2 separate regions of the Homo sapiens genome follow, and region 2 is linked to region 1. A link means that fine-mapping ties the variant in region 1 to the expression of a gene that starts in the linked region. Tissue or cell type: whole blood. Region 1 holds a variant in brackets; the other region holds the start of a gene. Each region is shown on its reference strand, or each on the opposite one.

Evidence for each region. PIP is the estimated chance that this variant, and not a neighbour inherited with it, causes the effect.
Region 2: SPARC starts here. The variant in region 1 is fine-mapped to the expression of SPARC in whole blood (TOPMed, PIP 0.95).

The regions. Positions count from the first base shown.
Region 1 is chr17:35,554,889-35,560,262 of GRCh38, reverse strand. SLFN14 (schlafen family member 14) reads left to right here. Exons shown (of 6, transcript NM_001129820.2): 2 at 458-536; 3 at 2,157-3,260. The coding sequence starts at 2,201. LOC107985033 (a long non-coding RNA gene) reads right to left here. Exons shown (of 2, transcript NR_138032.1): 2 at 4,714-5,374. Among named protein-coding and RNA genes, the nearest start is that of SLFN14, 3.2 kb to the left of the region's middle. The variant A/G (reference allele first, on the strand shown) is at 2,478.
Region 2 is chr5:151,683,655-151,689,028 of GRCh38, reverse strand. SPARC (secreted protein acidic and cysteine rich) reads left to right here and starts at 2,114. Exons shown (of 10, transcript NM_003118.4): 1 at 2,114-2,164. CLMAT3 (colorectal liver metastasis associated transcript 3) reads right to left here. Exons shown (of 5, transcript NR_109873.1): 4 at 3,078-3,200; 5 at 1,119-2,647. RefSeq lists enhancers at 1,346-2,173, 2,174-3,003, 3,832-4,661.

The DNA.
Region 1 (5,374 bases):
AATTGTTATCAGCATTCAAATAACATTGATGAGACTTACGAGTCACGAGACCATAGGGTTTGCTATTCAAAATCAATTAGATTTGTTTTGTGGGTCCCATCAGTGGAAGTTATGGGGAGACAAATTGCAGCTTAAAGTAAGGAGACCATTTCTAACACAGACGTCAGAAATTAGAAGGGACTAGAGGGACTATTTGATAGGTAGTGAGTTGCTCATTGCTGGAGGTTTGCAACTTGTTGGGAGTTGGCAATATTATAGAGGAGATTTTAGAATCCTATAGATTGTTGGACTGGAGGATCTTTAAAGTCCTTTCCAACACTTCTGTGATTCTATGATATAAATAGAATGTTATGGGAAATTTCCCTAAGGAGCCATAAAATACTACATTTACATGTACCTATAGAAGAGGCTCACATTCTAAAAAGAATTCCCCAGGTTGATTCTGGTTTTCCTGAAGGAAGTGAGAAGGCAACCAAGAACAAATTGATATCAGGGGAGTGCACATGTCTTGCCGGATGCCTGCTTTCTTCCTCTTGGTGAGTATATACAATGCCCACAGGGCCCCTGCTTTGCAAAGATCACACAGAAAGATGGGTTCTCTTCTCCTAGAGGAAGAATTTTGGTTGAGTTAGCAAATATTTTGTTTTGCAATTGACTAAAGGTAAGCAGATCTTTTCTGAAATATTTGTTTCAGAGCTCAAATTTCAGTTTAGGTGGCTGTTTTCTGGTCTAGGAAGCAAAAGAAGGGTGACAATGGTTTAGTTACCATGCCCCAAAAGCTCATGTTCTTTTCCAAGTCTTAGGGGTTTCCACAGCACAGGGCAGAACTATTAGAAGGGAAGGAAAATGCTGCTGTCACATCACACTGTATATGAGGCAATGTACTTTTGAGATTTAGAACATGTGAAGAGTTGAAAAGGTTTCTGCATTTGGTATCAACTGACATTCTTTCAGGAGTAAAATAAAGCTTTTCAAAGTGTATGAAATAATACATAAAAATATAGAATTTTATTTATTTACTTTTATTTTTATTTTTTTAGACAGGTTCCCACTCTGCTGCCCAGGCTGGAGTGCAGTGGTGCGATCATGGTTCACTGCAGCCTCAAACTCCTGGGCTCAAGAGATCCTCCCACCTCAGCCTCCTAGGTAGCTGGGACTGCAGGTGCGCACCACCATACCTGCCTAATGTTTAACATTTTTTTTTTTTTTATCTTTTGTCGAGATGGGGTCTTGCTATGTTGTCCACGCTGGTCTCAACTCCTGATCGAAAGCAATCCTCTCACATCCACCTCCCAAAGTGCTGAGATTACACATGTGAGCTACCACACCCAGCCTATGTTTGTGTTTATAGCAAGATCTTCTACAGTACATATACTGTAAAATTATACTTCCTTAGTTCTCTAGTGCCTTCCTTTCTTCCCCTTTTGAATTATAAATAAGAGCATCTTCTCACTTCAACTTCTATTTCTGCATATTCTCCAATACCTTCCTGGGCTCCTGTGCCAACCCATGCCCTTTATATCTGGGCTCAGTGTTGGCGTTTCCTGATTTGAAATGCAAAATGGCTGAAAATGTTAGCAATTTAATTTTTCCATTATGACAAATATTAGGCATTCACCTTTATCCATGCCTACTTATTCTGGCAAGGCTAAGGATATTTGGCAAAGTGATTAGAAAACAGCAGTATCAAAGATAATTTCCAGTTGGGTGCGGTGGCTCACATCTGTAATCCCAGCACTTTGGGAGGGAGGCCCAGGCAGGAGGATTGCAACGTAGCAAGACTCCATCTCTTAAAAAAAAAAAATAGCAAGAACAAAAAAGAAAAAAAAAATTAGCCAGGCTTGGTGGCACGTGTCTGTAGTCTCATCTACTAGGGAGACTGAAGTTGGAGAATCACTTGAACTGGGAGGTTGAGGTTGCAGAGAACTATTATTGTGCCACTGCACTCCAACCTGCATAACAGAGCAAGATTCTATCTCAAAAACAAACAAACAAAACTAAAAAACCCAAAACAAACAACAACAACAAATATACATATAGAGAGAGATGACTTCCAACATTAAAATATATCTCCAGTAATTGATAGTTTTGAAGAAAATATTGTAATCTTTGGAATTCTTATTAATATAGAAACAATATTTCTGTCCTGATTATAGGAACTCCTTTCTTTTATTGTTTGGAGCACAGAGGGGCTGCTGAAATGGAGAGTCTCAAGACTGATACTGAAATGCCGTATCCTGAGGTAATAGTAGATGTGGGCAGAGTGATTTTTGGAGAAGAAAACAGGAAGAAGATGACCAACAGCTGTTTGAAAAGATCTGAGAATTCTAGAATTATCCGGGCTATATGTGCACTGTTAAATTCTGGAGGTGGTGTGATCAAAGCAGAGATTGATGATAAAACCTATAGTTACCAATGCCATGGGCTGGGACAGGATTTGGAAACTTCTTTTCAAAAGCTCCTTCCTTCAGGTTCAC[A/G]GAAATACCTTGACTACATGCAGCAGGGGCACAATCTCCTGATTTTTGTGAAGTCATGGAGCCCAGATGTTTTCAGCCTTCCACTAAGGATTTGCAGCTTGCGCTCCAATTTGTATCGGAGAGATGTGACTTCTGCTATCAACTTGAGTGCTAGCAGTGCCCTGGAGCTTCTCAGAGAGAAGGGGTTTAGAGCCCAAAGAGGAAGACCAAGGGTGAAGAAGTTGCATCCTCAGCAGGTTCTCAATAGATGCATTCAGGAAGAGGAAGATATGAGGATATTGGCCTCAGAATTTTTTAAAAAGGACAAACTCATGTATAAGGAGAAACTCAACTTTACTGAGTCAACACATGTTGAATTTAAAAGGTTCACCACCAAAAAAGTCATACCTCGGATTAAGGAAATGCTGCCTCATTATGTTTCTGCATTTGCCAACACTCAAGGGGGATATGTCCTCATTGGGGTGGATGATAAGAGCAAAGAAGTGGTTGGATGTAAGTGGGAAAAAGTGAATCCTGACTTACTAAAAAAAGAAATCGAAAACTGCATAGAAAAATTGCCTACATTCCACTTCTGCTGTGAGAAGCCAAAGGTAAATTTCACTACAAAAATCCTGAATGTGTACCAAAAAGATGTCCTGGATGGTTATGTCTGTGTGATTCAAGTGGAGCCCTTCTGTTGCGTGGTGTTTGCAGAGGCCCCAGATTCCTGGATCATGAAAGACAATTCTGTCACACGGCTGACAGCTGAGCAGTGGGTGGTCATGATGCTGGATACTCAGTCAGGTAAAGGGAAGTGAAGTCATTGTCCCCATCAGCAGGGAGGAACCCCTTTCTCTGCCTTTTGTGGGTATTTGATCACATATGTTAGTTAAAAAATAGAAATTTATTTTTCTTATAAGTGTTCTCCCATTACAGTGTTCCTTATCTAACATTTTTAGTTCCAAAGACTCAGAATATAAACTGAGGTCAAGAAATGTTTGGATTCTATGGCCTAAACAACTTTTTTTTCTTTAGACTCTGTCACCCAGGCTGGAGTGCAGTGGTGTGACCTCGGCTCACTGCAAACTCCACCTCCCAGGTGCAAGTGATTCTCGTGCTTCAGCCTCCCAAGTAGCTGGGATTACAGGCACACACCACCATGTCGGCTAATTTTTGTATTTTTAATAGAGATGGGGTTTTGCCATGTTGCCCAGGCTGGTCTTGAACTTCTAACCTCAAGTGATCAACTCACCTCCACCTCCCAAACTGCTGGGATTACAGGTGTGAGCCACCACTCCTGGCCAGCCTAAGCAACTTTTAAAGGAAAGTTACAGTATGCCATCAGCAATGAGTTAGGAAAGGTCTCCTTTTATTGTCTATAAACCTGTTGAAAAAATTGTGCAGGCTGATCATCCCAGTCAAAATTGGAATAGCCTCATTTTAGAGATGATATTCTAGAGAAACACTGTTTAAGAATAACTCTGAGGCTGGGCGCAGTCCTAGCACTTTGGGAGGCCAAGGTGGGCAGATTGCCTAAGCCCAGGAGTTTGAGACCAGCCTGGCCAAAATAGCGAAGCCCTATCTCTCCCCCAAATATAAAAATTAGCCAGGCGTGGTGGTGTATGCCTGTAGTCCCAGCTACATGGGAGGCTGAGGTGGGAGGATTGCTTGAGCCTGGGAGGTGGAGGTTGTAGTCAGCCAAGATCACTCCACTGCACTCCAGCCTAAGCAACAGAGCGAGACCCCGTCTCAAAAAAATAAATAAATAAAAATAAAAAAATAAAAATAAATGACTCCACTACTCCACTAATTCTTTCAAGCAAAACATTGTTGACAAATTTGAATTGTTTCAGTAACATTAGGAGCTAATAACCTTAAGCCACTGGGCTTAGGGCACCACCAAGTGGGGGAAAATGATGCAAAAGGAGATGCTAGGGCAAGGGGGTGCTGGGGGGAGCAGGACCCCTGGTGTTCTCACTTACCTTTCAGTTTTGATTGGAATCAGCCTTGGTGATTCCTAATCAATCCATAAAGGACTATAGGCCGAACTACGCCTATCTGCTTGCCTTCACGGCCAGTATGTTCCAGATTTCATCAAAACTTGAGTGATTGGAGAATTTTATTGGGTCATTCTTTCTCTTAATTTGTTTGAGTTCACTTCTCTTCTCCTCTCCCCTAAAGATCCTGCCACTTTTGATTCCATCTAACCTTAGATGGGGACATAAACAACTGTAACAACATTTTTTTTTTTTTTTGAGACAGGGTCTTGCTTTGTCGCCTAGGCTGGAGTGCAGCGGCACGATCTCAGCTCACTGCAGCCTCCGCCTCCCAGGTTCAAGCAATTCTCCCACCTCAGCCTCCCGAGCAGCTGGGATTACAGGCACACCACCACGCCCAGCTAATTTTTGTATTTTTTTGTATTTTTTTTTTTTTTTGAGACGGAGTCTCGCTCTGTCACCCAGGCTGGAGTGCAGTGGCGCTATCTCGGCTCACTGCAAGCTCCGTCTCCTGGGTTCACCCCATTCTCCTGCCTCAGCCTCCCGAATAGGTGGGACTACAGGCGCCGGCCACCATGCCTGGCTAATTTTTTTTGTTTTTAGTAGAGACGGGGTTTCACCGTGTTAGCCAGGATGGTCTTGATCTCCTGACCTCGTGATCCGCCTGCCTCGGCCTCCCAAAGTGCTGGGATTACAGGTGTGAGCCATCACATCTGGCCAACACCATTTTTAAAATACTGTGCTTTAATCCTTGCTGATCCCCACTAGATGCCTTTTCTTCTTAGAGATAACCTGGAGTCAGAATATTATAATTGAAAGGAAGCTTAGGGATTATTACTTCACTCCAGCGTGAGAGAGAGGTGAAATGACTTGCTCAAGCCGAGTCACACAGTGACTTAGAATATGTGTGATATGTCCCCT
Region 2 (5,374 bases), not on the chromosome of region 1:
AGAGTGTCTCTGGCAGAGGTAAGAGCAAATGCAAAGATACTGGGCATGGTGGCTCAGACTTGTAATCCCAACACTTAGAGAGGCCAAGGCGGGCGGATCACTTGTGGTCAGGAGTTCGAGACCAGTCTGGCCAACATGGTGAAACCCTGTCTCTACTAAAAATACAAAAATTAGCCTGGTGTGGTGGTGCATGCCTGTAATCCCAGCTTCTTGAGAGGCTGAGGCAGCAGAATCACTTGAACCCAGGAGGTGGAGGTTGCAGTGAGTTGAGATTGCGCCACAGCCCTCCAGCCTGGGCAACAAAGTGAGAGTCTGTCTCAAAAAAAAAAAAAAAATCCTGGGGTGGGAGAAGCTTTGGGGTAGTTGAAGGACTGGAAGGAAGTTGGCATGGCTGGAGCAGCGTGGGCACAGAGGACAGTGGTAGGAGGAGAGAATGGCAAGAGAGACAGGGGCCACAGCGGATGGAAGTGTATCATGAGGGTGTTCTCTGCCTTCTTCCTTTCCATGGTATTCAAACCCAACCCATGCTTCCAGGTCCACCTCTTTCAGGAATCCACCAATCTGAAGCCCTGGGATAAGCCTTAGAGTCTGTACCACTCATGTAAGTGGGTGTATGTGTAAGGCACAACCTTTCAGCAAGATCCAAAGCTCCTTGAATAGTGAGTTATCTCGATTGATTGTTCACAGTCACAGATTGAATTCCTTGTACTTTTTTTCCCTTCTCAGTTCTGCACTTAACTCGTCTAAAAAAATTAAAAAAGAATTTAAGAAACCACAAAGCTAAGCTGGGTGCGGTGGCTCACGCCTGTAATCCTAGCACTTTGGGAAGCCAAGGCATTCGGATTGCCCAAGCTCAGGAGTTCGAGACCAGCCTGGGCAACATGTTGAAACCCCATTTCTACTAAAAATACAATAAATTAGCTGGGTGTTGTGGCATGTGCGCCTGTAATCCCAGCTACTCTGGAGGCTGAGGCGCGATAATTGCTTGAACCCGGGAGGCAGAGGTTGCAGTGAGCCGAAATCATACCACTGCACTCCAGCCTGGGCGACAGAGTGAGTGAGACTCTGTCTCAAAACAAAACAAAACAAACAAACAAAAAAACCGGAAACCACAAAACTTTTTGAGGACAAGGACCAGGTATTTATTAATTCTCATACCTCCCAGAGTGTTAGGCACAAAATAAACATTCAACCAAGACCTGTTGCACTGAGCAGTTCATATATAACAGGAGTGACCCAAGTTGAAACGTAGAATCAGCCCTCTCATACCACTTTTTGCCAGGTGATCATAGGCAAGTTACTTAGCATCTATGTTTCCTTATTATTAAAATGGTCATAATTACAATGCCTAAGATAAGGGGTTGCTGTGAAGATTATTAAATCCTCAGTAAACTTTGGCTATTGTTACTCCTATGATTATCATCAATATCATCAATTACCTTATCTGTTCAATACTGGTGGCACAGGTCCACCAGCTAGATGTCTAATCCCTTATGTGTCTATTAGTGGTACAAGTGGAGTTTGAGTGGGATTTTTTTTTTTAAGACCAGTTCCAAATCATCAAGGATGATACCACTAGTAGCAGCTTGTCTTGTCTGTACAGTGGTAAGTCCTGGCCTTGCCTTTGTGGCAAATACAACCCCCTTGAATTGCTTGGCCCTTCTCAGCATTGCCTAATATTAGGGAGGACTCCTGTAAAGCTCACTGGTTAGAAGATCAAGACACTTGGGCCTGGTTCTGCCCCTGGGGGCCATTGGGTAATTCCTTGCAGTCTCCAGGCCTCACTTGCCCTCTGAACAAGAAAGAGGCTGTTCTGGGTCATCCCTCCAGGCCTGTCCAGCCCTGGCACTCTGTGAGTCGGTTTAGGCAGCAGCCCCGGAACAGATGAGGCAGGCAGGGTTGGGACGTTTGGTCAGGACAGCCCACCGCAAAAAGAGGAGGAAAGAAATGAAAGACAGAGACAGCTTTGGCTATGGGAGAAGGAGGAGGCCGGGGGAAGGAGGAGACAGGAGGAGGAGGGACCACGGGGTGGAGGGGAGATAGACCCAGCCCAGAGCTCTGAGTGGTTTCCTGTTGCCTGTCTCTAAACCCCTCCACATTCCCGCGGTCCTTCAGACTGCCCGGAGAGCGCGCTCTGCCTGCCGCCTGCCTGCCTGCCACTGAGGTATGTGTGACCCCCGCCCAGCCTTTCCCTTCTATAGTTGCACCAACCCCGACACCCCCGTTCACGCCGTCAGCTCGTGTGCAAGGGAGGGAAGCTCTGCTGAGGATGCGCCTCTCCTCCCGGCTCCATCACGGCTCCCCTTAAGAGCATGGCCCTCGGTCCTGTCTGCCTGTTGCTTTTCAGAAGGTGGACTCACTGTGTAACTTTGTCTTCCCTTACAGGTTTACAGAAAATAATCTCACTATGTCTTCGGGGGAGCATTTTCTCACTCTCTGTTTTTCTCTGTGTCTGTCTCTGGTTTCAGAGGCTGCCTGCCTGTCCTCTTTGCTCCCTTTGCAAATGTGGCAGCCTCCTCCTTTCCTGGGAATCTGATCCCATCACAGCTGCCACAGGGACCTGGCCAGCAACCGGAGTCTGTCCTCCAGATCTCGGTCAGGGGTTCTGTTTTCCAAAAGGGACTTTGCACGAACAATCAGTTGATCTCTGAAAGGCAAAGGGGGAGGCTTCACCATTAATCCACACCTCTGGGAAGCCTTCTGTTTTCCTCTAATTCTCCTCACTCCCAAACACCACCTTCCGTCCCCCCAATACACAAATTTCAGCACCATTCTGCCTGAAATGGCACCATCACAACCTCAGTCTTGGGTTAGGTGTTGTTCCTGTCCTGAGTTCCTTGGGATGGTAAACACAGGCAGTAGCCCTTAGTTTATCTAGATCTGAAAACCCAGACATCAGATATCGTCAACCAAGACATGGGTGTAATGGGAGGTGGAGTGTGCTGGGGGAGATATTCTCAGAAGGGGGAAAGGGGGAAGGGAAGAGGGAGAGAATTCCAGGGTCCCCTTCCGTAATCCACCCAAGACTAGTGTCCAGCCTGTCAGGGTGTCAGTTCTTCTTCAGACAAATCCACTACCTTTCTTCGCCGCCACTGGCTCCGTGAACTGGCTGTCAAGTGGACTTCCTTAGGGAAAGGGACTCCAAGGACTCCAAGGGAAGGGGGGCACTGGGATGAGTTATGTCTTCCAGGATTCCCAGTCTGCCCAAAAGGGAACAGAGAGGCATGCATTTTCCTCAGGAAAGGACAGCATTTTTTTCATTAGAGAAAATGTTTTCTCTAGTAATGCTTTAGAGTTAAATTTCTATACGCCCCAAGTGCTGGTGGTTTAGTGAGAAGCAAAGCAGAAGTAGGACACAGGCTTCGGGCATGCATTTTATGTGTGATCTTAGGTAAGTGTCTCCCCTGGATTTAGTGCCCCATCTGTAATGAAAGAAGGCTGAAACTGAAGGCTCTTTGGGGTGCTTTGTGTCCTCTAAAATATTCAAAGGAAGATTTCTTAACCAGGGTCTATGGAGTGGTCTTTGAATGGGCCTCAAGCCATCTCTAAGCCCCTAAAAATTGTATGCACTGTGTGTGTGTGTGTGTGTGTGTGTGTGTGTGTGTGAGAGAGAGAGGGAGAGAGAGAGAGAGAGAGGATGAATATGGGTGGTCACAGCTTTCAGCTTTAAGATATTCTCAAATGGATTAGAGGGCATGACGTGGGGATGGAGTGAGGACTGGTAACAAATGTGTGTATTTGCTGGAGGATGAAGCCTTCTGAAAAGGGAGTGGTTGAGGAAAGAGAGAGTTAACTCTCAGCTATCAGCTGCCACATCGACATAGCCTAGAGCAAAGAGGGGGAGGGAGGAGAAGAAGGGGGTTGCCTGGAGAAGGAATCAACTTTTGAAACTTTCTCCAAGTCCCACCCACCAGAAGGCTCTTCTCTGCCTGACTCACTCTCCGAGGAATGCGAGTTGCCACGGTAACCTTTTTTTCAGGGTCTCTGCCTGCTGGCTGGAGGGGACCCTTGAAACCCTCTAAGAACATCAGTCTGAACGTACCCCACCCCCAAATTCAAGGCCTGCAGCAAATTCTAGGCCCTGCCCTTGTGATCTCTCAGGATTCCGGGGAAGCCTTGGGCCATGATAATCTCCTTGCAAGGGTGTTTGAAGACCTGGGTTTTAGCTCTGGCTGTGCCCTGAAGGTACCATTTGACCTTGAACTAATACTTCTTTCTGGGCCCCATTCCCTCTACAGTTAAAGAACAGTAACAGCAGCCACCTCTAGGGGGTAGATAGTGTGTAGAAGAAATGGGATAATGCACAGGGAAGCACTTTGCGAATTGTGGCATTCCCTCATAATGCAAAGGGTTTTAGAACTGATGGATTAAAGGCATCCAAAGACCTAGTGAAATCATTCTCAGCTTTTTTTTTTTTTTTTTTTCCTGGCAGCTCCATCATCTTGGGGTTTGTATAGAACTTTCCTTTACTAGAAGTACTGACAGGAAAAATTTTAAAATCATAATATTGTTTATCTTCATTTTGATTTGGGGAACTTCTTGTGTATTTCCCAAGACTGTTGTGCCCTCTATGTAGGAAAAGCATTGGCCAAGGGTGAAAAAAAAAAAAAAAAGTGTGTTCTAACTCCCAGTGCCTGACATTGGGAAAGACACTTCCTCTCTTGAGGCTGCAGTTTCCCAAACTGTTAAATAGAGTTTCTAAGCTAGATGATTTCCCAGGCACCCTTCTAACTCTGAAGTCCTATAAACCTAAATCCCAGATACCGCTTTTATTCAAAGGAATAGCTTGCCTGCATTTTTAACACCGCCTTACTGCACCCCCAGTTGAAAAGAAAACAAGAAAAGATGGGCTAGGGGATCTTGAGTTGCATAACCATCATGCTGTAATCCTTATCCATCTGTAGAGATTTGTCAATCAACAGTGTGGCTGGGGTTTGCTATTCATGAGAGCAGCTTTCCTTGCTGAAAACAAGCTATAAATAAGAAAGAATGGTGAAGGAAAGGAAAGAGCTGAGGATGTGAGGTAAACAGTAGAATATTTGGCTTTTGAAGTTGTTTATGTAGGTAGATAAATATGCAGAGATAAACAGGGACAGGTACAAACCCATAGGGATGAAGAGTATAAACATCGATTTCATCAACAGGCACCCACTGGCTCAGCTAAAAATAAGTGCCTCATTACAGGAGCAGACACAGAAAGTCATTCACTCACACACCTCTTCCTGGATGACAATGATTTACAGACAAGTTCCAGGAATATATCTCAATGAATGTGAAAATTCTGACCCTCGCCTATTACAGGCTGAAACAGACAGATGCTAAGTCAGGCTGTATGTAACTTACACAGACATGCCATCAGGTATACAAACACACA